Linked DNA regions of Homo sapiens. The protein of the gene in region 2 purifies or fractionates together with the protein of the main gene of each other region. This does not show direct contact. Each region holds a gene or a part of one and is shown on either strand. Other genes may lie near its edges. The genes, in order: CYBRD1, MYO19, SIPA1L1, SIPA1, ITPRID2, ACTR2 and DENND2B.

Evidence for each region.
Region 1: the proteins of MYO19 (region 2) and CYBRD1 purify together in Homo sapiens (affinity purification with mass spectrometry; one large-scale study listed by BioGRID and IntAct). This does not show direct contact.
Region 3: the proteins of MYO19 (region 2) and SIPA1L1 purify together in Homo sapiens (affinity purification with mass spectrometry; one large-scale study listed by BioGRID and IntAct). This does not show direct contact.
Region 4: the proteins of MYO19 (region 2) and SIPA1 purify together in Homo sapiens (affinity purification with mass spectrometry; one large-scale study listed by BioGRID and IntAct). This does not show direct contact.
Region 5: the proteins of MYO19 (region 2) and ITPRID2 purify together in Homo sapiens (affinity purification with mass spectrometry; one large-scale study listed by BioGRID and IntAct). This does not show direct contact.
Region 6: the proteins of MYO19 (region 2) and ACTR2 purify together in Homo sapiens (affinity purification with mass spectrometry; one large-scale study listed by BioGRID and IntAct). This does not show direct contact.
Region 7: the proteins of MYO19 (region 2) and DENND2B purify together in Homo sapiens (affinity purification with mass spectrometry; one large-scale study listed by BioGRID and IntAct). This does not show direct contact.

What each region holds. Positions count from the first base shown.
Region 1 is NC_000002.12:171,528,974-171,532,473, forward strand, and holds part of CYBRD1 (plasma membrane ascorbate-dependent reductase CYBRD1), read left to right. Parts: intron 1-3,500. UniProt on the Homo sapiens protein: Plasma membrane reductase that uses cytoplasmic ascorbate as an electron donor to reduce extracellular Fe(3+) into Fe(2+).
Region 2 is NC_000017.11:36,500,369-36,503,868, reverse strand, and holds part of MYO19 (unconventional myosin-XIX), read left to right. Parts: intron 1-668; coding exon 669-772; intron 773-1,907; coding exon of another isoform or gene 1,908-1,927; exon of another isoform or gene 1,928-2,010; intron 2,011-2,633; coding exon 2,634-2,800; intron 2,801-2,909; coding exon 2,910-3,039; intron 3,040-3,500. UniProt on the Homo sapiens protein: Actin-based motor molecule with ATPase activity that localizes to the mitochondrion outer membrane. Motor protein that moves towards the plus-end of actin filaments. Required for mitochondrial inheritance during mitosis.
Region 3 is NC_000014.9:71,585,976-71,589,475, forward strand, and holds part of SIPA1L1 (signal-induced proliferation-associated 1-like protein 1), read left to right. Parts: intron 1-322; exon of another isoform or gene 323-953; intron 954-1,595; 5' UTR 1,596-1,897; coding exon 1,898-3,395; intron 3,396-3,500.
Region 4 is NC_000011.10:65,641,101-65,644,600, forward strand, and holds part of SIPA1 (signal-induced proliferation-associated protein 1), read left to right. Parts: coding exon 1-500; intron 501-1,149; coding exon 1,150-1,277; intron 1,278-1,362; coding exon 1,363-1,539; intron 1,540-3,500. UniProt on the Homo sapiens protein: GTPase activator for the nuclear Ras-related regulatory proteins Rap1 and Rap2 in vitro, converting them to the putatively inactive GDP-bound state. Affects cell cycle progression.
Region 5 is NC_000002.12:181,898,230-181,901,729, forward strand, and holds part of ITPRID2 (protein ITPRID2), read left to right. Parts: intron 1-650; coding exon 651-690; intron 691-784; coding exon 785-883; intron 884-2,466; coding exon 2,467-2,675; intron 2,676-3,500.
Region 6 is NC_000002.12:65,255,331-65,258,830, forward strand, and holds part of ACTR2 (actin-related protein 2), read left to right. Parts: intron 1-214; coding exon 215-364; intron 365-3,500. UniProt on the Homo sapiens protein: ATP-binding component of the Arp2/3 complex, a multiprotein complex that mediates actin polymerization upon stimulation by nucleation-promoting factor (NPF).
Region 7 is NC_000011.10:8,713,175-8,716,674, forward strand, and holds part of DENND2B (DENN domain-containing protein 2B), read right to left. Parts: intron 2,645-3,500; coding exon 2,429-2,644; intron 1,533-2,428; coding exon 1,436-1,532; intron 869-1,435; coding exon 824-868; intron 1-823.

The DNA.
Region 1 (3,500 bases), on a different chromosome or scaffold from region 2:
AATTTATTGTCTGTCTTCTCCTACTAGAATATAAACTCCCAGAAGGAAGGGATTTTGTCTGTTTTCTTCAATGCTGTATCCATAGCATTACCCAACACATAATAAACATTCAATGAATATTTACTAAATTGATGGAAGTTTGGCCAGTTCTTTAAACCAGAGGGTCACACCAACAAGGATTGGAGTACAAAGTAAATAGGTGAAGTAGATTTAGTATACAGCACCCACCAGGGTGTCTTTCTGGATTCAACTAAACATTCAGACACGAGAAACTGCTGCCAGGGGCGGTGGCTCATGCCTGTAATCCCAGCACTTTGGGAGGCCAAGGCAGGTGGATCACCTGAGGTCGGGAGTTCGAGACCAGCCTGACCAACATGGAGAAACCCCATCTCTACTAAAAATACAAAATTAGCCGGGCAGGGTGGTGCATACCTGTAATCCCAGCTACCCAGGAGGCTGAGGCAGGAGAATCGCTTGAACCCAGGAGACAGAGGTTGCGGTGAGCTGAGATCATGCCATTGCACTCCAGCCTGGGCAACAAGAGTGAAACTCTGTCTCAAAAAAAAAAAAAAAAAAAAAAAAGACATGAGAGACTATTAAGACCATACTGAACACCAGTCTACTCAGAAGGATGTAGGACAGAAGTCAGAGCTTGCTGGCAGGACAGTGGCTGGGCAGTGGCAGTGGGCATCCTTGCAGCAGCAGTCATCATAGCCCTCAGTAAGCTATCCTTTCCTCAGGTAACAGCTCAGGCACCAGGAGATGAGATCTGCACTGGTGAGATCAGAGCTTAAAGTCCCCTTGCCCCATAGGAACCACTGTCTTTTGTAGTACTCTGTATACCTACTTCTATGATCCCTGCAAGGGATAGGTAGTGGGTTGAACAGTGCCCCCCAAAAAGGTATGTCTAAATCCTAATCCCAGGTATCCATGAATGTGACCTTACTTGGAAATAGGATCTTTGCAGATGTTAACTATGGATCTCAAGATGAGGTCACCCTGGATTTAGACTGGGCTCTAAATCCTATGATTGGTGCCCTTATAAGAGAAAGGAGAAGGAGATTTGAGACAAAGACACACAGAGAAGAAGGCTATGTGAAGACAGGCAGAGATTGGAGTGATGTGGCCACAAGCCAAGGAAAATGGAGAATTGTTGGCTCCCCTAGAGGCCGAAGAGGGTATGGCATGGCTTCTCCCTCAGGACCATCCTGCTATTATAACACCTTGATTTTTAATTTCTGGCCTCCAGAACTGAGAGATAATAAATATGTTGTTTTAAGTTACTAGATTTCTGGTAATTTGTTATGGTAGCTCTAGGGGATTAATATAGGCTATAACAGTTATCACTGCACTCTGGGAAGCCCAAAGTATTGGCATCGTCATCAGGTATTTACAGATTTTTCATTGTTTCTCTCAGTCCAGACACAGTTTACCAATTGGGTCAGTTTTTATTATAACCAGCGTTGCCTAATAACTGGTGACAAACCACTTATCTGTTTACTAAGGCAGTTAATTAAAGGTCAAATCCTCATGCAGCAGAGTATAGGTGTACACTTGTGTGAGAGGTGGGAACTGTAGGGAACTAGAGAGTGCTCACTCCTGGCAAAACAGGAAGCTTCCACTTAGCCCCAGTGGATCGTGGCTACGTGAGGATGCCAGTTCAAGGTTGCCAGGGCTTCTCATTCTCCCGAGAGAATCCAGGTTTTTAAAAAATTGGTTCAAACAAAAAGTAAACCAGCCACAAAAACAAAACCTCCAAAACATTGGGCTGATCAAACAAAACAACATCTTTGGACCAAATTCCAGTCCATAGCTTCCAGTTTACAGGTGACTCCTGCTAGGGTTTTCTGACTTGACTTTGCAAGGTTTTAAATTTTTCCCTTAAAAGGTAGAACATTCTTCCTTTTTAAGAAAGATAGAGGGCCAGGCACAGTGGCTCATGCCTGTAATCCCAGGACTTTGGGAAGCCAAGTAGGGAGACAAGCCTGGGCAACATGGTGAAACCCCATCTCTACAAAAAAAAATACAAAAATTAGCCAGGCGTGCTGGTGTGTGTTGGTAAGTCCCAGCTACTCAGGAGGCTGAGGCTGGAAGATCACTTGAGCCTGGGAGGTTGAGGCTGCAGTGAGCCATGACCATGCCACTGCACTCCAGCCTGGGGACAGAACAAGACCCTGTCTCAAAAAAAAAAAAAAAAAAGAAAGACTAGAAATCTTTGTTATAACTTTTTTCTTTATATAGAGACTTCCTTAAAAGGTCAAAACAAGCTTTGAAATGACTATACAGACTTTGGCTGTACTTTTCTAAGTTTTTGTTGTTGTTCATTCAATTTCTTCATATTATCCTATCCATTTAATTAACATATTTATTAAGTACTTACTGTGTACCAGACACTGTGTAAAACAAGTAAGATACAGCTCGGTCTGCAAGCTGTTCCCATTTAATTTGGTTGGACACGAGTTATGGTTTCTTTCTTTTTGCTTGTTTGTTTTGATACAGGGTCTTGCTCTGTCAGCCAGGCTGGAGTGTAGTGGCGAAATCATGACTCACTGCAGCCTCGACCTCCCGGGCCCAAGTGATTCTTCCACCCCTCTCAAAGTGCTGGGATTACAGTTGTGAACCACCGCACCGTCCCAGCTCAAATTATGATGGGGTTTTTTGTTGTTTTGTTTAGAAATGTAGGTTATATTGATCCTTAAATATTTAGAGCTGGCTGGGACCTTAAGTTCTACCCTTCATTTTAGAGACCAAATGTCTGGCCAGGGTCAGACAACCAGGTAGTATCAAAGCCAGTACTCTTTCTAACCTGTCATAATATTGATATGAGGCACAAGAAAATATAGCTGATCTTTCTGAAAACACACAATTTCTGAATATTTTTAAATGTGTAGTCAATTAATTGAATTTTTTTCTTTTTCTACATGTATTTGGTACCAAGTAGCTGCCTTTGCGAGGATTTTAATCACTCAGAGATGTTTCTAGGGCTAAAAATATCTTCCAAATCATCTGAATCACTTCCTTCATTTTGACTTTCCAGAGATTTTCAGTTTCATGACATTCGTGCTGTGAGACAGTTTGAATGCACAGACATGTTTCAAAGCTCTGATTCTCTTTGACAGCCACTGCAGGAATCTTTTCAAGAAGTTTATTTAAAGAAGATTCTCTGCTTTTTCATTTAAACTTAAGGTCCTTTGGATAGAATCTGGTAAGCTCTTGCGTGCAGAGGGAAATGAGTTGTGGAGACTGATAATCCTGTTCTGAGCATTCTGCCAAGGAGAGTGAAATAATACTTTATTCAAAGAGGGAAGGGAAGTGTAATGAGCACACCATGTTTAAGTAGAATTCATAAGTGTTTTAAAATTCCAGTGTACTTCAAACTCAATAACTTACTCTTATTTTATTTTTGAATTCACTTCAAGTTGTTAAGTGGGTCCAAGTGCAGAATGCTTTTTACTTATTTGAAAGGGCCATTTGGTCTTCTATTAGCTAATACTTGCATC
Region 2 (3,500 bases):
CCCAGAGTGAGATGTGGAAATGAAGAGAAAGAGGCTGGTCTGTAGAAGTCAGCTGGGAACTAGGGAGCAGCACCCATTCGTTCATCCATTCACTTATTGTGCACTATTTTGTACCCAGCTGATGGCTGTGACAAAAGCCACACTGGTACAATGTTGGGGACAGAAGCCAGACTCAGGAGGGCTGACAAGCAATTGGGAGGAAGTGCAGATATCAGGTGCCAGCAGCTGTCTGAGAAGTGTTGCCTTGATGAGGAGCAGGGAGATCTGGGGGAGGCAGAGGAGACTGTGGGGTCAGAGAGGTCAGAGGGGAGATGTGGCCAAGCATGTCTGCGTCATAGGACTGGTCCAATTGTTTGGGGAGAGGCCTGTCAGCCCCTTTGGAGGGAGGCAGCCCGCAAATCCCCTGCTAACACAAGAGATGCTTTGTGTTGGTAGACCAAGGCAGCAGGGAGAGCAGACCCATTTTAAATAGTCTTTATGGGTTTCCAACTAAGTGATCCTAGAAATCGCTTCAAAACCACATTCACATTCAGTGGGGATACTCGGGGAGGGCAGCACCGTGCTGTGTTGTTGAGCAGATTAAATAGAATAACTTCTGATGAGCCCTGAACCGTTAACCTGGCTCACAGATGAAGTAATTCTCTACTTCTGCCTGCTTTGGCCTCCAGGGTCTCTCACCGAAACTTTGTAGAACGATACAAGTTACTAAGAAGGCTTCATCCTTGCACATCCTCTGGCCCCGACAGCCCATATCCTGCCAAAGGGCTCCCTGGTGAGTGGGACCCATGAGTTAGTCATTTGTGCAACCACAGTTTACTGAGCATCTACCCTGTGCCCTGTCTTAGGGCTAGGGGCTGGGGCTTACTGGTGAATAAAACACAGCCCTGGTTTTGGTTCAGTGGGGGAAACAGATTCAAAAAAGACAAATAGCATGGAAAGTGGAAAAGCAGAGCTATGAGCAGGATGCTGTGGGTGGTGCTAGGGAGGTGTGAATTGGGGAAGGCTTCCTGGAAGAGGTAGTATCTGAGAATAAATTGGATTAGCCAGGTGATGGGTGGTCCACATGATAAATGTAATCTGAACAAAGGCCTAGAGGCTTGAGGCAGCAGTGTGGGTATGAGGAACTCCAGCCAGTTCTGTGTTGCTGGTTCATTGAGGCAGAGAACTGGGGCAGGTGAGGCTGGAGTGGCAGGTAGGGCTCCATCAAGGAATCTGGACTTTATTCTCTGGGCAGATGAGCAGGCACTGCAGGGGAAGGAGCAAATGACTCTTATCAGCCTCACACTTTCTGGAGACCACTCTGGGGGCACCATGGAGGGCTGTGGGATTGAGGCTGCAAAGTTGCCCCAATAGAGAGAAACAAGAATTGTGGGCACAGTCGGGAAATATTTGTTGGAAGAAACTGGTCAGTCTTGGTAGGGGCTTGACTAGATGTAGAGGGAGAGGAAAGGAGTAAATTAACTTAGCCTGGGAAGTGAGGAAAAGCAAGAGGAAAAGAGGTTCAGGGAGGCTGAAGAGCCCGGGCATGGGTGACTTGTCCTGCAGGTCCAGTGAAGAAGTCTGCAAGGCACTTAGGCAGGCTTTAGTCTCAAAGGAAGGATCTGGAGGCCCTCATATGGGGGTTGTCGGCATGCAGATAAAAGAGAGGCTGTGGGAGCCACAGGGCCCAGACACAGGCAGAGGGAGAACAGGCCAAGGACAGGCTGCCGGGGGGCCCCGCCTCGGCAGGACCCCAGCCCAGCACCTCTGCCCCTCCCACCCAGCCTTACCCTGGGCCCCTCACAGCCATTGGGGCAATCCTGCTTTGTTTCCTCCCCTCCTGGGCAGTTTTCACTTTCCTTTCACCCTTTCTCCTTTCTTCTCCCTCTCCATGGTTTGCTGTCCTGTTCCGTGTCTCTTGCCCATAGCCCTTCTGGCCCCTGGTTGATTTTGCTGCTGTTTCTCATCTGTGGTGTCTCCTTTGGCAGCCTCTGTCTTCAGAGAGGCACTGGGCATCTAAGGTGGTCAGAGCCCTCAGGTAAATCCTACCTCTCCAGGAGTCAGCTCTGCGAGCTGCGGGAGGGCAGGCAGTGGGACACGGGACCTTTGCAGGGCTGGGATTTTTTAAATTTATTTTTTAATTTATTCTTTTTATTTGCAGTAGAAGATTCCCAAACTAAGGGCTGGGATTGGATCTCCCTTTTCCCATACATGGTGGGGAGTTGAGGGGTCGGGGCTGAGGGAGTGGCCTATAGCTGCCCTATTTGGCCCTCAGGATGTGTGTTTGGGCCTTGGAAACAAATGCTGGCTGAGCAGCCTGGGATTCCAAGCTTGGAAGGAGTCACCCTTCCAGGTGTCAAGCACCCTCTGCCAGCCTGCCCAAAGGGACTCATGGCAGTAGAGGCTGTGGGACACCCCAGGACACACAGGCGCAAGTGGGTATTCCAAGGCTCCACGGAACAGCTAGCACCCTGAGGGACAACAGAGAGGCTGTTTGTGGCTTCCTCCAAAAGAAGAACAAGGAGAAAATGGCTAGAGCCAAGAACAGCAGGAAAGAGACCTGTAGAGTGCTAGGGAGGCCAAAGCCAGTTTCTTCAGGCCACAGAGGCATGTAGAGATGACCATGCACTGATGGGGCCATCTCCCTCCCCCAGAATGGTGTCCACACAGCGAGGAAGCCACGCTTGAACCTCTCATCCAGGACATTCTCCACACTCTGCCGGTCCTAACTCAGGCAGCAGCCATAACTGGTGACTCGGCTGAGGCCATGCCAGCCCCCATGCACTGTGGCAGGACCAAGGTGTTCATGACTGACTCTATGGTGAGCTGGTTTGGGGATGAGGAGGTTACAGAGGCAAGCTGTGTGCTCTCCTCAGCAGGAGGGGGCAGGGGGAGAAGAGGCTGCCCTCAATGGATGCCTTTTCTCCCAGCTGGAGCTTCTGGAATGTGGGCGTGCCCGGGTGCTGGAGCAGTGTGCCCGCTGCATCCAGGGTGGCTGGAGGCGACACCGGCACCGAGAGCAGGAGCGGCAGTGGCGGGCCGTCATGCTCATCCAGGCAGGTAGGTGGGCAGGTCACCTGTCAGCACTGCTCACAGACCCCACAGGATGTTGGTTTCCTTTGAAACATAGCTCGTCGAGTCCCCATCTCCTGAAGCTGTGTCCCAGCCTGAAGAGATGTCCCTGTGGTGTGCTGGGATTCAAATTCCCTGTCCCCCTCACTCATAACGTCTCTCCAGTTCAATGGAAACCAAGTCACTCCACAAACAAAGGTGCTCTGTAAGAAGTGGAGGCTAAGCGTTGTCTAAGCGTTGTCTTTAATTCCTTTCTCAGACCCTGACAGCTGTTTAGGCCAACTTTTTTTCCCTTTATGACAACTCAAACCATTACCTGCTGGGCTCTAGGGCTGGAATGAATTTAAGGAGAAGGTAAAAACCAAAAGGAGTTCATCAGATGAAAAGATGTATTAACCAACATGTTCATAGTGGTCTTATTTTGAAAAGGAAAAGTGTTGGAAAGAACC
Region 3 (3,500 bases), on a different chromosome or scaffold from region 2:
CATTGAAAGAGGAACATGTAAAGTTCTGGAATGTAAAGGGAATAATAGCAGTCTGACAGTAGAAGTATCTAGAAAGCTCAAAAGCCATGTTTAATTAGGTAGCAGTGCAAAACTATTATCCCTTTTACAAAAGATGGTGAAGAGGAGTGCTAGTGAAAACAAATGGCATTTATCTGAATGGCTCCACAGACTCAGCCAGCACGAGCCCAGCCAGAGCTCGCCTCACCCTGCATTCTGCAGGCAGCATGCATTTTTTTTTTTTTTTTTTGAAACACCCCTACATGTTCCAGCCTTTAAATAGCAGCGAGTCTTCTAAAGTGATGCTGTGTGCTGCAAGAGAAATGAAAGCGCCTGCCTTGGAGGCAGGAAGCCGACTAGGGAGATGCTTAATTATCGTGGAAGTAGGTGCTTGTTACCATTGAGTGGAGAGTGCAGCAAGTGCAGGTCGTCCTCCGGTGTCAGAGCCGTGATTTGTAGACAATGCCGCCCTGTCAGCTCAGTGCTGGTTCAGCAGCATCTTTCCAAACATGTATTTGGCAAGAATTTAAAGGCCACCTCTTGTGTAATTTGTGGAGTCTTGGAAAAGGAGCCTCTGCCTTTCTTTTCAGAATGTACGCAACCATGCAGAATTTTGTACTCAGAATCTGTGTCTCCTGCCTTCTGCCTGACGTGCTCATGAGGAAGTTTGTTTCCATGCCCGTCACCTGGAAGGATGCTAACAGTTCTCTGTAATCTGTTGGGGATATGGAGAGGGCCACCCAGAGCTGTGTTTTGTTTCTGCCGTCTTCATAAATTAGCACTGATGGGGTGGAGTAGGTTGTACTGCATGAGGAAATGCAGGCATTTTGTTCATTAGTGAGATACTTCTAGCTTTTAAGAGTACAAGAAACTAAGGAGAGCTTGGGAAGAGGTGGTGGTGAATGCTGGATTCATTCTGCAATATCCTCGTCTCGGTAAGTAATAAAGTAGAGGAAAATACAAAAGAGTGCTAATGGATATAATGGCTCTGGGAAAACTCTTTTTATTTATTTTTTCCTGCTGTATTTGTTTTTGCCAACTATGTTAAGCCTTTGTAAGGAAACAAAAAACATGTATTGATTTTGGAATAGAGGAGTTAAAAAGTGATTGTTGCAGCATATTCAGTAAAGTCATTTTTCAGTTTTTACTTTTGTCAAAAAACTCTGTTGCTCTAATTATCTTATTCACTTGGTTACATCTCAAACTTCTGGTCATCACAGTAGCTCATGATGTTCTACATTTTTAGAGGTCATTGGAGCAAAAGTCTGTACTTTGGGTAGGAGCCATGATATCCAGAACAAGATGTACCCCTCCCCCTGCCCCCCATTTTATGAAACAGTTCAATTAAGATGAAGTCTTAATAGTTTTTTTTTTTAGAATATAAATTATGGATTTTATCAAATGGTTTTTACTTTCTTCCTTTCTTTCAAACCTGCTTTACTAAAAATACGGATTGTGGAACTGTGAATCCTAATCCATTATTGAGTCTTTTATCTTCATGTGTCTGGTTTTGACAATTGCATGTTTGTTTTTAGATGTATTTATCTGCTAATTCAAATTATCCTTTTCTCTTTTAGAGAAAGCATGGGATTATGGCAACCACAGAATCTCAGTAGTACAAGTTCCATTCAGTTTTTTCTGAAAGAAAGCCCTCTGTTAAAGTGAAGCAAAGAAACTGTTGTGGATTATAACGTTTAGAAGTTCCAATTTTTCAGTGCTTTACAAATAAAGCATCATTTAACCTTTTAAATGAAAAAGATTAAGATCTCATGCAACTGTTGTATTTTCTGGAAGCCATTCTCCAAAAGGGAAGTGCACATTTAAAACACAGATATGATGGTCCTTGCTGCAGGGATTTAAGTCTACTTGCTTTTACATCATGACCAGCTTGAAACGGTCACAGACAGAAAGGCCTCTTGCCACTGACAGGGCCTCTGTTGTTGGCACAGACGGCACCCCCAAAGTCCACACTGATGATTTCTACATGCGGCGCTTCCGGTCCCAAAATGGCAGCTTAGGATCATCAGTTATGGCTCCTGTAGGACCCCCCCGAAGTGAAGGTTCTCACCATATAACCTCAACCCCCGGAGTCCCAAAAATGGGGGTAAGGGCAAGGATTGCAGATTGGCCCCCAAGAAAGGAAAACATAAAAGAATCTAGCCGTTCAAGCCAGGAAATAGAAACCTCAAGTTGCCTTGATAGCCTGTCCTCCAAAAGCAGTCCTGTGAGTCAGGGAAGTTCTGTTAGCCTCAATTCCAATGACTCAGCCATGCTGAAAAGCATACAGAACACGCTGAAAAACAAGACAAGACCGTCGGAGAACATGGACTCCAGATTTCTCATGCCTGAAGCCTACCCCAGCTCCCCCAGAAAAGCTCTTCGCAGAATACGCCAGCGAAGCAACAGTGATATCACCATAAGTGAACTTGATGTGGATAGCTTTGATGAATGTATCTCACCTACATACAAGACTGGACCATCACTGCACAGGGAATATGGTAGCACATCTTCAATTGATAAACAGGGAACATCTGGAGAAAGCTTTTTTGATTTGTTAAAGGGCTACAAAGATGACAAATCTGATCGAGGTCCAACTCCAACCAAGCTCAGTGACTTTCTCATTACTGGTGGTGGCAAGGGTTCTGGTTTCTCTTTGGATGTAATAGACGGGCCTATCTCACAGAGAGAGAACCTCAGGCTTTTTAAGGAAAGGGAAAAACCACTCAAGCGACGTTCAAAATCTGAAACTGGAGACTCATCTATTTTTCGTAAATTGCGCAATGCCAAAGGTGAAGAACTTGGGAAGTCATCAGATCTTGAAGATAACCGATCAGAAGACTCTGTCAGGCCCTGGACATGTCCAAAGTGCTTTGCCCACTATGATGTCCAGAGTATATTATTTGATTTGAATGAGGCAATTATGAACAGGCACAATGTTATTAAGAGGAGAAACACCACCACTGGAGCTTCCGCAGCTGCCGTGGCATCCTTGGTCTCTGGACCTCTGTCTCATTCAGCCAGTTTTAGCTCCCCAATGGGCAGCACAGAGGACCTGAATTCCAAAGGAAGCCTCAGCATGGACCAGGGAGATGATAAAAGCAATGAGCTTGTAATGAGCTGTCCATATTTTCGGAATGAGATAGGTGGAGAAGGGGAGAGGAAAATCAGCCTTTCAAAATCAAATTCTGGCTCCTTTAGTGGATGTGAAAGTGCCTCCTTTGAGTCTACCCTTAGTTCCCATTGCACAAATGCAGGAGTGGCAGTACTTGAAGTGCCCAAGGAGAACTTGGTGTTGCACCTAGATAGAGTGAAAAGATACATCGTGGAACACGTAGATCTGGGTGCATACTATTATAGAAAATTTTTCTACCAGAAGGGTAAGTAGAGATCCTTTATTTCTTACATTTTCTTTTGCAGTACTTTCTGAAGAAAAGTACTGTATATTAAGATATTTATTAACAATGTGACATAAGATTTGCATG
Region 4 (3,500 bases), on a different chromosome or scaffold from region 2:
CAGGCCCCCCACGCCAGCCAGCCCCCGTGCCCGTGCCCACAGCCACGAAGAGGCCAGCCGACCTGCAGCCACTTCCACCCGGCTCTTCACTGACCCGCTGGCACTGCTGGGGCTGCCAGCAGAGGAACCAGAGCCTGCCTTCCCACCAGTGCTTGAGCCTCGATGGTTTGCCCACTATGACGTGCAAAGCCTGCTCTTTGATTGGGCTCCGAGGTCTCAGGGGATGGGGAGCCACTCAGAGGCCAGCTCTGGGACCCTGGCTTCAGCCGAGGACCAGGCTGCCAGCTCGGACCTGCTGCATGGGGCACCTGGCTTTGTGTGTGAGCTCGGGGGTGAGGGTGAGCTAGGCCTGGGTGGACCAGCATCCCCACCTGTGCCCCCTGCACTGCCCAACGCGGCCGTGTCCATCCTGGAGGAGCCACAGAACCGAACCTCGGCCTACAGCCTGGAGCACGCAGACCTGGGTGCTGGCTACTACCGCAAATACTTCTATGGCAAAGGTGAGGAAAGGCAGTTCCAGGGAGTGGAGGAGGGGGGCTGAAGAAGAGGTCCCTGTCACCTGCAGTGCACACAGTAGGGCTCATGAACTGTCCATTTCCTGTAAAGTCCCTGGCCCTGGGAGGGCTCAAGAGCTGAGCTGGGGTCCTCCTGGACCTACTTTCAACCACCTTCTTAAGGCTAATCCCTGGCTCCTCACCCCCAGCCAGGGCTGGTCCCTCTGCCTCCGTATTGGTTCATCCTCCATCTGGTTCAACCTGCCAGGCTGGGGAGAGATTCCCTATGGGCTTTTCTGTGGGGTGAAAACTCAGGCCTCAAATCCCTGCATCCGTGAACCTTGTTCGCACCAGCACTGCGGAGAGAGGGCTCCAGGACATAGAAGGGAGAATGAGGGCGTGGTGGGTGGAGCCAAGGCAGGATTTAGGCCTGGGAGCTGGCCGCGTGGGTCTAGGTCTGGGTCTGGGTCCACCTCTGGGTCAGGGTTGAGATCAAGATATTGAGCTCGGGGCTACAGAGGGGCGGGACTTAGTCTAGGGTCAACATTTGGTGGTGAGATGAAGCCTAGGGCGGGGCTTAGTGATGCGCGTGGTCGAGCGGGGGCGGGGCTGCCAGAGGGCGGGACCAATCGTTTTCTTCGGCGCGGTCCCCCAGAACATCAGAACTTCTTCGGGATGGACGAGTCGCTGGGCCCGGTGGCAGTGAGCCTGCGGCGGGAGGAGAAGGAGGGCAGCGGAGGGGGCACCCTGCACAGCTACCGCGTCATCGTGCGGACCACGCAGGTGGGCCGGGATCGCGGGATCAGGACGTGGGTTGCCTCCCCGACACCTTGTATGCATCCTGAGTGCCCTTACACCCCTTCCTCAGCTCCGGACACTCCGTGGCACCATCTCGGAGGACGCGCTGCCGCCGGGGCCCCCACGGGGTCTGTCCCCAAGGAAACTTCTGGAGCACGTGGCGCCGCAGCTGAGCCCCAGCTGCCTGCGCCTGGGCTCAGCTTCACCCAAGGTACCACGGACGCTGCTCACACTGGATGAGCAAGTGGTGAGTGGCGGGCCGCGGAGCCCCCAGCCATACAGCTGGCCCCAGTCTGAACCCAGCCTGCCCAGCTCCCAAACCCCTAGCCTTGACCCTGATCCTGGGCTGGGTGGTGACCCCAGAAGAGCTGGCTTTTCAGAGACAGGGCATCAGAGTTCATCTGGAGCCTTGCGTCTCAAAGTGAGCTCTGTAGACCAGCAGTATCCACATCATGTAGAAATGCAGATTCTGGGGCCCCACCCCAGACCATCTGAATCAGAGTTTGCACTTTATTTATTTATTTATTTATTTATTTATTTTGAGATGGAGTCTCGCTCTGTCACCCAGGCTGGAGTGCAATGGTGGAATCTCAGCTCACTGCAACCTCTGCCTTCCGGGTTCAAGAGATTCTCCTGCCTCAGCCTCCTGAGTAGCTGGGATTACAGGTGCATGCCACCACGCCCAGCTAATTTTTGTATTTGTAGTAGAGATGGGGGTTTTACCATGTTGGCCACGCTGGTTTTGAACTCCTGACCTTGTGATCTGCCCACCTCGGCCTCCCAAAGTGCTGGGATTACAGGCATGAGCCACTGCCCTTGGCCCAGAGTCTGCATTTTAAAAAGATATTTGCAGCCCTAGATGCCCTGGTCTGACTCACCCCACTGGTCCTGCAGTTCCCGCATCATTCCTGGCCAATTTCCCCCACAGCCCCTGCTGGGTTTCCTCTAACATGTGGTGCTCACAGCTTCCTGGAGCGGCTCCTTCCATCCCCCACTCCATGCTGAAAGCTGCCCATTGGCTGAGTCTTCTCCTCTGTATCATTCAACCCATCAGTCATTCAACAAACATTTCTTAGACCTTTTTGGTGCCAGGCCTCAGACTGGATGCTGGGGACAGGTCTAGACCAGGTGCTTTGCTTGAGTAGCTCACAGCTGGGTGGGAGAAAGAGACCCACAGAGAACTGCTGAAACACAGGAGCAGTACTGGAACACTGAAAGGGAATGTTGAGGGCTGCCTGGGCCACGACGGTAGTGATGAGAGCCCTTCCTTGGCCAGGGTTTTCCAGCATGGAGAACACAAAAGGGCTCAGGCCCGGATAAGCAGGTGTTTTCTGGTCAGAAGGAATAACTTGTGCAAAGGCTTGGAGAATGAGAGCATGGCACATTAGGCAGTCAGTTCAGCGTGGCTGGGGTTGGGATTGTGGGGAGGGGCGGGGGAGAAGCTTGCATTTGTTCCCGTGGACACTGGGGAGCCATGGAGGGATACGGTGCAGATCTGAGAGGGGCAGCTCTCTGGCTGCAGCATGGGGACTAGACTGTACGGGGCGGGGATGCCAGGCTGAAGGCTATTGCAGTTGCCCAGGCTAGACACAGTGGCAGCGATAGTGGAGGTGAAGAGGAGGTGACAGTCCAGGAAGGACTGGGTAGTCATGTGGCTGACTGGAAGGGGTGAAGTGCTAGGATTTCCCAGCTTCTTGGCCCCCAGGAGTGGTGGTTTAAGGAGGAGGAGCAGGGTGGGGGAGTCACAGCAAGGTGAGACATTAGGCAGCCGGAGAAAAAGGCCCGGGGTTTGGTAGGCCGGTCTGAATGGGAGGCGGAGATGGGGGTGTCATCCTTGCTGCAGCCAGGGAGGGGGAGGAGCATGGGTGGAGAAGAGGCCCAGGCAGAAGAGGGCGGGGTTCCTGGGGCCCTAGGCAAGGTGAGTTTCCAGCTATCCCCAGTGCCACCTATGGCTGAGAGGGTACCAGGATGAGGCCACATCTGGGGACCATATGGGGAGTGGGGGGTGCAGGGGGTTGGGAGGAATGAAATCGAAGTGGGGACTGTAAGTGCAGACAAGTTTAGTTGTAGAAAAGGGAGGTGACCGCTGGAGGGGAGCCTGTGCTGTTTGGAGGAGTTCAGAGCACCTTGAGCTGGGCATGGTTATCCAGTTATCCGCAGAGGGAAGAGCCGGGAAGAGGGCACAGAAATGGGAGCATGGGGGGCAGA
Region 5 (3,500 bases), on a different chromosome or scaffold from region 2:
TGTGTGCTGAAATAGATGTGTTTATAATTAATTTTATTCTTTGTATTTGTCTATAAATTTAACTTTAAACATTAACACTTACCTGTTTAGAACTTTAAGCTAAAGTTCTATCATAAAGTTGAAAGGCAATTTTTAAAAGAAAGTTTATATTGAAATAAGTAGAAATTTTCATGTTATATGTGTGAAAAATCAGTTATAACCTTAAAAAAAATTCACATTAGAAACTGACATATACTATTGCCACACTTAATGTTAAATCATGTTTTCCTCTTAAGATATTATTCATTAATAGCTTTTAAATTTAATAATTAGTACCACATATATGGTACATATCTTCCTCATTACTTATTTCTAACCTGTTAAAGAAATTTAACTGGTTCCCTATACGTTTTTTTATTTTAAGCACTCAAGTGAGAGTAGTTAGTTTCATGTTGCCACAACACAAAAACACCCTTCAAAAGCTCCTGGCCCTGTTCTTATCTATCTGTATATCACTTTTAATAATGCAGATTTAATGGACCAAGATAAGTGTTTAATATATTTGGCATTTAATTCTAATATTGTAGGTAATTAGATTTCTTGATAATTGTATCATAGTAGTTATAGTCCTACTAACAATTGTGCTCTACGTTTATTGTTTTTACCTGTAGCCAACCACCTCCATGAAAGTGATGCTCAAATTGAAAACTGGTATGTAGCTGTTTTGTTCTATTTCTTTTAAAAAATGAAGACCTTTAATGAAAATAAAGTTATAAAGTTTTATATAATCTGATTTTGTTCGTAGCAATAATATCTTGGCCAAAGAGAGAAGATTACAGTTTCATCAGAAAGGGAGAAGTATGAATTCCACTGGATCTGGGAAAAGTAGTGGGACAGTTTCAAGGTAACTTATTCTGAAATTGTGTTGGAATTACATTGTGCTATAGATGACCTACTCTTATCATTTTTTCAATCTTGGATTTGACCTTGATCATATGAAATCAGAAAGAACACAAAAAGAGCGTTTCCTGTACCAGCACAACTGATAGGAGCTTTTTGTTTTGTTTTGTTTTGTTTTGTTTTACTTTGAGATTAAATAAAATGCAATAAATAGGCTTATACTGCTGCTGGAACCCATAAATGAGTATTTTGAGCCCTCTCAACAGCCTGAAAGAGGAACTCCATAGCGGAGTAACTTGTAGTTGTAGAGAACCAAAATTCATTGTTAAGGACTTGAGTTAACTCTGACACAAAAATCAGAATAAATTTTTCTAAGTTACAGCTTGATATTTAAGCATACTTTTTTTCAACACATTAAACCAAAGATCTTTCAAATATATAGTATAGCCAGGCCCAGTGGCTGACACCGGTAATCCCAGTGCTTTGGAGTGTCAAAGTGGGTGGATTACTTGAGCTTAGGAATTCAAGACCAGCCTGAGCAATATGGGGAAACGGCGAAACCCTGTCTTTACAAAAAATGCAAAAATTAGCTGGGTATGGTGGGATCCACCTGTAGTCACAACCACTTGGAAGGCTGAAGTGGTACCCAGGAGGTTGAGGCTGCAGTGAGCTATAATTGTGCCACTCCATTTCAACTTGGCTGACAGAGTGAGACGCTGTCTCAAAAAAGCCAAACAGAAAAATACCCTTGCCCCTCTCCCGCCCGCACATATAGTATATTAAAATACATCAGTGCATGTGCCTATGGAATCCAGTTTAAACTGTTATCCAAATTATAATATTAGAATCTGAGCATTTTGTCTGAAACAAATTGAAATGTCTCTCTGTTGAAGTTCCATCTCTAACTTTCCTGTTTTCTTCAGTGAGTCTTAGAAAGCTTGGATTATCACTGGTATGAGAGAGAAGGGATACTAAATATTTAATTCCCAATAGGATTAGAGTAGTTACCTTTGTGTAACCCACACTCTCTGTACCTTACTCCTCCTACTTCCTGAGTGGAAGTGGTTGGAGAGAAGTTGAAAGTAAGCTCCTCCCTCGCTTCTCTGAAATCAGCTTGTTATCTTTATTGTTCCTCCTAGGACAATTGCCACTCCTAGGACAAGGATAACAGAAAAGCTCAAATTTCACAAAATGTCCCTCAGTTCCTTTTAATTTCTGCTTTAATCTGTTCATTCCTTATTCTTCATCATCTGTCTTCTACTTGTTTTAGCTGCTTTACAGGGAATCTCTTAAAATGACAAAACAAATAAGGTGAGGAATCACGTAGGGAATCTCTGACTGTGTTCGTTGGGGTTAGCTCTTTTCTGCAACTCTAGCAACTTGAGACAATGAACCCTTTATAAGGGCTATTTATTCCCCAGTACACATGTGTAAACATGGTAAAATAAATAATGGTTTCCAGAGCAGAAGCTGAGAAAAAAGATTTTATCACAGGAAATCAGTAATATGTATTCATTTATAATGTGGTGTGGACTATCAATTTATTTTATATTTTCATGTTTCCTTTTTTGCCCCCTTTTTTTGTAGTGTTTCAGAATTGTTGGAACTTTATGAGGAAGATCCTGAAGAAATTCTTTATAATCTTGGATTTGGACGTGATGAACCAGATATTGCTTCTAAAATTCCTTCCAGATTTTTTAATTCATCATCCTTTGCCAAAGGGATAGATATTAAAGTATTTTTGAGTGCTCAGATGCAACGGATGGAAGTAGAAAACCCAAATTATGCTTTAACAAGTAAGATTTTTAAGTGTTAGGCATATTATTTTCTTAAATTATAGCATCTACAGCAAGATGGTCTTATTTTAAAGCCTTAATTTTCAGGAATAGCACTGGAAAGTAAAGAGATTGATTAACGCAAAAGCCATTTTTACATGTTAAAATTAAGCTATTTTATTACTCCATTTATAGTGGTTAATTTGCCTATTTTTCCCCTCCTCCCCAATTCCTGACTTAAGTGCTACCATAACTTATTTGCAGAACCTTATTGTTGTCTACAGATTGCTTTTATTCAAGAAGAAAAGAAGTAGGAGAGGAGCCTTGTTAATCTTAAATGAAGTCAGTCTGTTTCAGGAACTAGTCTGGCTAATTTGATCAGTTTCACTCATATCTTTGCTTGTTTTCTTTCTGTTAGCCAAAGATTCCAAAAATAGGATTCCAATCCTGCATTGTTCATGGATCAGTTTTAAGAGATCAATAAATCCCTCACCCTGCAAATTAGGTATAAAATATATGCTTACATGCATTTTCTTAGGAGAATTTTGAAAGAGTCTTAATGGAGTTCAAGACTTCAGAATAGAATCACAACTGTAGATTCAATAGCTAGTTCTTTCTGTTTTATTCAATGTTGCCATTATGCTTTGTGCTTATTTCTGATTTTTTAAAAATACAAATTCTAGTGCTTAGAGTAAAAATCTTGCTCCTTCCCACCCAGTGAATGTAGAGAAGGTTTAAGTGTTAGATGAGGAAAAAATAGGGTTTTATAATCTTTGTGATCTAAGTGTAGTTTTTGGAATTCTAAACAATAATATGCATTTAATATATGTGTATGTATATATATAA
Region 6 (3,500 bases), on a different chromosome or scaffold from region 2:
TACTTATGAATTGTTAATTCTTTTACCCTCTCTGAAACTGAAATATAAATCCTTTTATGGCGGATAAAATCCTGCTTCTGAAATAGTAGGAGCTGAGGATCCACTGCCCATTCTGTTTGTTATTGATGTGACATATTTAATGAGCATTACTAGCTTTTGCAGAGTAGAACTCATTCAGATGTATTATGAACTTATTGCTATTGTTTTGTACCAGCTACTTCTGTTGCGAGGATACGCCTTCAACCACTCTGCTGATTTTGAAACGGTTCGCATGATTAAAGAAAAACTGTGTTACGTGGGATATAATATTGAGCAAGAGCAGAAACTGGCCTTAGAAACCACAGTATTAGTTGAATCTTATACAGTAAGTGTTTCCAGTGTATAATATATATGTGTTTTAAAGTGGACAGCCATGATTATTGGTGTCAGCTTAAGGAGGTTTTCTTAGAATCAGTATTTTTGTCTTGGGTTGTTGTAATATGTATATGTGTGACTTTTAATGTCTCTTTCTACATTAAGTTTCTATTTAATTATTTTAGGGCACCATATAATGCAAATTAAGGCAAGAATCATAAATTACTCTCTATACTAGGATATAATTAGATGCGAGATGTTATTTTGAGATTCTAGTATTTGGCATAGCATTTCTCAATGTATGTTTTACAGAACTTTATTTCCCTGAGATGCTAATAAGCATTTCACAAAAATTAAAAAGGATTACATTGTCAGATGAGTTTGAGAAAGAGTTGATTTCACTTCACTGTAGAACTCAGAGCCTTTGGTATGCTAATATGGGCACAATTAATATAGTATGCGTGTTTTTCAGACTTATGCTCTAGGACTTTTCAGAATTTCATGGGATTAGTGATCTAAGAAACATACTTTGGAAATGGTCATTCTAGAGCATTGCTTTACTAATTCAGTAGGTGGCAGCCTTTCCTGACTTAATATTCTTTAATGAGGTGTTAAATGTTAACTTGAAATTGTAACTAATGAGATTTAGTACCTGGTTATAGTTTATAACACCAGAGGAGTTGATCCTACTTGAATTTTTAATGAATTACCATCTTAAGCCTATTAAATTTGTCTGAGTATAAAGTACTTCCAGGTCTCATCTTTGATCTAGTTATTACTAAAATGAAACAGTAATAGGCAATGAAGGCAAGTATTTTAAAACCATATGATGCATACTAGCTCTACATATTCACAAATATATGCAAAATAGTCATTTTTAAAGTAATTATAAAAAATTTGTTGTTGGCCGGGCGCGGTGGCTCACGCCTGTAATCCCAGCACTTTGGGAGGCCGAGGCAGGCGGATCACCTGAAGTCAGGAGTTGGAGAACAGCCTGGCCAACATGGTGAAACCCGTCTTTACTGAAAATACAAAAAATTAGCTGGGCAAGGTGGTGGGCACCTGTAGTCCCAGCTATTCAGGAGGCTGAGGCAGGAGAATTGCTTCAACCCAGGAGGCAGAGGTTGCAGTGAGCTGAGATCGTGCCACTGCACTCCAGCCTGGGTGACAGAGCAAGACTCCATGTCGGTAAAAAAAAAAAAAAAAAAAAAGTTAAGATAGTGATCCAAATATTCAGTAAACCCCCATTTAAAATTTTTTTAAATTTATTTTTTATTATACTTTAAGTTCTGGGATACATGTGCAGAAAATGCAGGTTTGTTACATAGGTACACATGTGCCATGGTGGTTTGCTGCACCCATCAACCTGTCATCTGCATTAGATATTTCTCCTAATGCTATACCTCCCTCCCCTTGCCGCCCCCCACCCAACAGGCCCCATGTGTGTTGTTCCCCTCCCTGTGCCCATATGTTCTCATTGTCAGCTCCCACTTATGAATGAGAACATTTGGTGTTTGGTTTTCTGTTCCTGTGTTAATTTGCTGAGAATGATGGTTTCCAGCTTCACCCATGCCCCTGTAAAGGACATGAACTCATTCATTTTTTTATGGCTGCATAGTATTCCATGGTGTATATGTGCCACATTTTCTTTATCCAGTCTAACGTTGATGGGCATTTGGGTTGGTTCCAAGTCTTTGCTATTGTGAATAGTGCTGCAGTAAACATATGTGTGCATGTGTCTTTATAGTAGCATGATTTATAATCCTTTGGGTATATACCCAGTAATGGGATCGCTGGGTCAAATGGTATTTCTAGTTCTAGATCCTTGAGGAATCACCACATTGTCTTCCACAATGGTTGAACTAATTTACACTCCCACCAACAGTGTAAAAGCGTTCCTATTTCTCCATATCCTCTCCAGCATCTGTTGTTTCCTGACTTTTTAAGGATCGCCATTCTAACTGGCATGAGATTTTGTGGTTTTGATTTGTATTTCTCTAATGACCAGCGATGATGAGCTTTTTTTCTTATGTTTATTGGCCACATAAATGTCTTCTTTTGAAAAGTGTCTGTTCGTATCCTTTGCCCACTTTTTCATGGGGTTATTTGTCTTTTTCTGGTAAATTTGTTTAAGTTCCTTGTAGATTCTGGTTATTAAGGCTTTGTCAGATGGATAGATTGCAAAAATTTTTTCCCATTCTGTAGGTTGCCTGTTCACTCTGATGATAGTTTCTTTTGCTATGCAAGAAGCTCTTTAGTTTAATTAGAACCCATTTGTCAATTTTGGCTTTTGTTGCAATTGCTTTTGGTGTTTTAGTCATGAAGTCTTTGCCCATGCCTATGTCCTGAATGGTATTGGCTAGGTTTTCTTCTAGGAGTAAACCCATTTTGTAACTTAATCATCTCCAGATTTGCTCTGGAGATTCCTTCCTGAAGTCTTCTTGACAGTTTCTCTAGTTGTCTGATTTTCCATCTACCTGACTATTTTGGAAGAAAGTGGCTGGCACAGGGCAAAAGATAAGCAAACTAGGAATGTAAAACATGTTTTATTTCTTCCTTCTCTCTTTTCTCAAAGAATTTGAGGTAGGCTACAAAAATATATACAAATAGGCTGGGTGTAGTGGCTCACACCGGTAATCCCAGCACTTTGGGAGGCTGAGATACGAGGATCACTTGAGGCCAGGAGTTCATGGCCAGCCTGGGCAATATAATGAGACCCTGTCTCTACAAAAAAAATACAAAAATTTGCCAGGCGTAGTGGCACGTGCCTGTAGTCCTAGCTAGTTGAGAGGTTGAGGTGGGAAGATTGCTTGAGCCCAGGAGTTCAAGGCTCAAGTTTTGAGGCAGAGAGCTAGGATTGCACCACTGCACTCCAGCCTGGGTGAAGGAGCGAGACCCTGTCTCAAAAACAAAACAAAATCCATATATATATTTGATATATATATGCACACACACACATATACACAAGTATAAAGTAATAAGCTGATGAATAAGTGAGGAGGGACATGGGTGGACAAATACAGAACAGGATAAGATTTGGTGCAAAGAAATGGGATGCCTGCAGTTTTAACAGTTCATTAAGGTGATTAGAAAACTTGACCCCATGCTGGCCAGCAGCCAGAGAATGGAGAGAAGCCACACTATCA
Region 7 (3,500 bases), on a different chromosome or scaffold from region 2:
GGCAGGGTTTCCCAGTAGAGAAAGCACAAAGATTTATCCAAGGACCCTGGAATGTGAAGGTTCCAGAACCTTTTCAAGCTCCTCTCTGGGGACAGGGGAGATGGGGGACTGCAGGGCCTCCAGAGAAACAGTTTCCTCAGTCTACGGCACATTTCTTGCCAGAAGAGGTCCTTGTAATCTTCTGTACCCCTCTCTGACCCTCCAGATCTACAATTTTTTTTTTGAGACAGAGTCTTGCTCTGTCGCCCAGGCTAGAGTGCAGTGGCATGATCTCAGCTCACTACAACCTCCGCCTCCCGGGTTCAAGTGATTCTCCTGCCTCAGCCTCCCAAGTAGCTGGTATTACACGCGCCCGCCACCGTGCCTGGCTAATTTTTGTATTATTTTAGTAGAGATGGGGTTTCACCATCTTAGCCAGGCTGGTCTCGAACTCCTGACCTCGTGATCTGCCCGCCTTGGCCTCCCAAAGTGCTGGGATTACAGGCATGAGCCACCGCGCCCGGCTGAGATCTACAACATTTACCAGGCAAATCTAGCACCCAACTCCCATGGACAATGGCTTGGGACAGTTTGGGCAGGTCACCACCCTTACATTTGGCAAAGGGAGACATCTGGATTTAACCTTGCAGGGCTGAGCTCACATGTCTATAAGGACAGACTTCCCTGTGGCTCCCTGCTCTATTGTTCTGGTATCTGGCCTGTCTGTCACCTCTCCACATCAGGCCGGTTAGGGACACTGGAACCACACATGCATCGGAAGGGAAGGCTGATTCCCTGCAGCCCTGCTGGGAGAGCTTCCGTACTCATGGGAGCTGTGCCTCACCTTTGAACCTGTCATCAGAGTCGCTCTCGCTCTCACTGTTTTCATCTGGAAAAGGAACAGCAGAGTACATACTTGCTGGACCTCACAGCCAATGTTTTTTGCTCCCCCACCACCCCAGCTTTTCTCACAGGGGATGGATCTCTACCTTCTCTGGGCTACTCTGGGCCCATGGTCAGGCATCTGCAGGCAGGGAGCTGAGTGGCCTGGGGCCAGGCTCCTTCAGAGCTCACACTGCGAATCCTATATTCAAACCCATGAGGGAAGCTGAGGGCCTGAGTTGGAGGCTGAGCCAGAAGAGGGGCCTACAGGCCTGGAAAAGATGGACCCTGCCTCCAGGAGGTCAAGATTTGAAATGGGAAACAGACCGCAATGCTCAGTGAGTCTGGCCTTTCCTTTTGCAGAAGCCGATTCCCACACCCACCTCCCTGCTCAGGGCCTCACAGCCCAAAGTCTGAAGGAACCCATCCCAGACCTTTCTTCCCTGTCTGCTCCTCCCTCCTACGTGGCCATTTCCTGGCAGGGCTCTACCCTCCACAGGTAAATTGATGCCTCTCCCGTTCCTAATGCCCAAGGGCCCCAAACAGCTGAACCAGCTCTGGCACCAAAGCCTACCTCTCAGTGATGCTGTTTCAATGCTGGACATAGACAACTTTTTTAATCTCTTCTTTCCTCTCTTGGCATTGTAGATGGAGTTAATTCTTTGGACAAGCTGGGTGAGAAAAGCAGGATGGGTGAGGTAACCTTAACACCAGCTGCCCTACTTCCAAGAAGGCTGAGTAGGAGCCCATCCCTGCCCTTAATGGTACAAGCTTTCTGCATTGCACCCGCTGGGTCCAGGACTGGTCTAACTGCAGAACCGACCTCAAGTGGTGACTCACCAGCCATGCATGGTAGCTCTCCATATACCTAGTCCCCCAGGAGTGGTCTCCTGCCCCAAGACAAGGACACTAAACTTAGCTCCCCAGAGGAAGGAACTGTGATCAAACTAGACAGGATGGTAGCTCCTGGGTCCCAAGAGTCATTGAACCAACTGAGACAAAGAGCCTCTGAGATGCAATAACAGGAACAAGGATTCTAGCCTTTCCCCTCTGGGCCATAACCTGGGGCCCCGACAGGAAGAAGCTAAATTCCCAATATACCCAAGCATTGTTTGCAGGTTAAAAATACCATCTGGCTAAATCCTGCTGCGTTGGGCTGGGGATTTGGGCCTGGCTGCCTATGTGTGAAAATCATTGCTGAAAATTCTTCAATGCTGAGAGTTATAGGAAGAACCCTTGTTTGAGTCCTAGGTCCTTGAAAGCCTGGAAATGCTTATGTGTGCGGATACCCCAAAATTCATACACCACACTTACTAATGGGGAACCTCGGCTAGACTTTCCTTCCTCTAACATCTGAGCACCAAGGTCAGTTAATGCATCTTTATTGATAAGAAAGGGGAATTAATCAGATGAAAAAGAGGCCAGTGCACGGACCCAGAATTTATTCAAAGGGAATCGAGGAAGCAGTCCAGATTAGGGAAGGAAGGAAGCCAGGAAAGAGAGAGAAAGGCTGGCTGCCTGCCCGCCCACCTGCCCGGCTCCAGTGGGCTGCCTCTGGGGAGGGTACCTTGGGAATGCGGCGGGCCCGGCGGCTGGACAGCAGCTCGCTGGTGGTGCTGAGGCTGTCTTCATTGAGGCTGGAGGGTGAGGACGGCAGACTCAGCTGAGCCAGCAGCAGCATGTCGTCATGGCTGTGCCTCTTGGGTAATCGTGGCAGCCGGTGGCTCTTCCTTTCTGACCAGTTCCCACTGCGCAGGGACTGGCTGTTGGGTTTCAGGGAAAGCTGGCGTGGGGGAGAGGACGTGCGAGAGGGGCTTGCCACAGAGGCCTTGGCCAGTGTCTGTCTGCTGGGATGGGGACACAGAGGCCAAGGGCCGGCATCCCTGGATCCCCGCCATCTTGCCCTGGAACTTCCATCCCTCTCTTAAGACTTTAGCTGCTAATCAGCCAGGTCAGGGATAGATTAGATACTTGCCTTCCCTAAAGGAAGCTTCACTACTGCCAGCAAAAAACGAAAGCAGAGGCTAAAAACACCTGTGCTCTCATCTGAGTGGAAAAAGAAGACTAAGTGGGAATTTTGCGGGGGTCCTCCTGAGCTATGGGACAAGAATTACTGGGCCTGGGTGATGGAACCAGTCTTCCGGACCTCTGCTCCCGAGCCAATCCTAAAAGGTTTCTGACAGCAGAGGCCATAACCTACTGGCCAGCCTGCTGGGCTGGGAGATCCTGCAGCCTGGCCCTCCTAACTGCTCCCATGGAGAACACAGGGGCTCTGGGCTCTGACCACCAAAGCTGGGCCAGGCAGGCCTCACACTGAATTGGATCCCATACCCACAAGGCCCTGGCTGCCCTCTCCCCAGCCCTGATCTACTCTCTGCCTCTCTCCATATGCGCTGACCTCTCATCCCAGGGCACCATCCTTGTCGCGGACCCTGTCAGGAGGCAAGTATCCCACAGACACCCAACCACTGTCTGGTTCTGGAATTGCCTCTCCTCACTCCTCAGCAAATCCTCCTTCCTCCACAGCCCCCAATTTCCTGTTCTCACCCAATCAATCTGGCAATGCAAACTCAGGGGAAGCCTGTTTGAAAAGAGTCCTAATTAGAGGGTAAATCTTTTTTTTTTTTTTTGAGACGGAG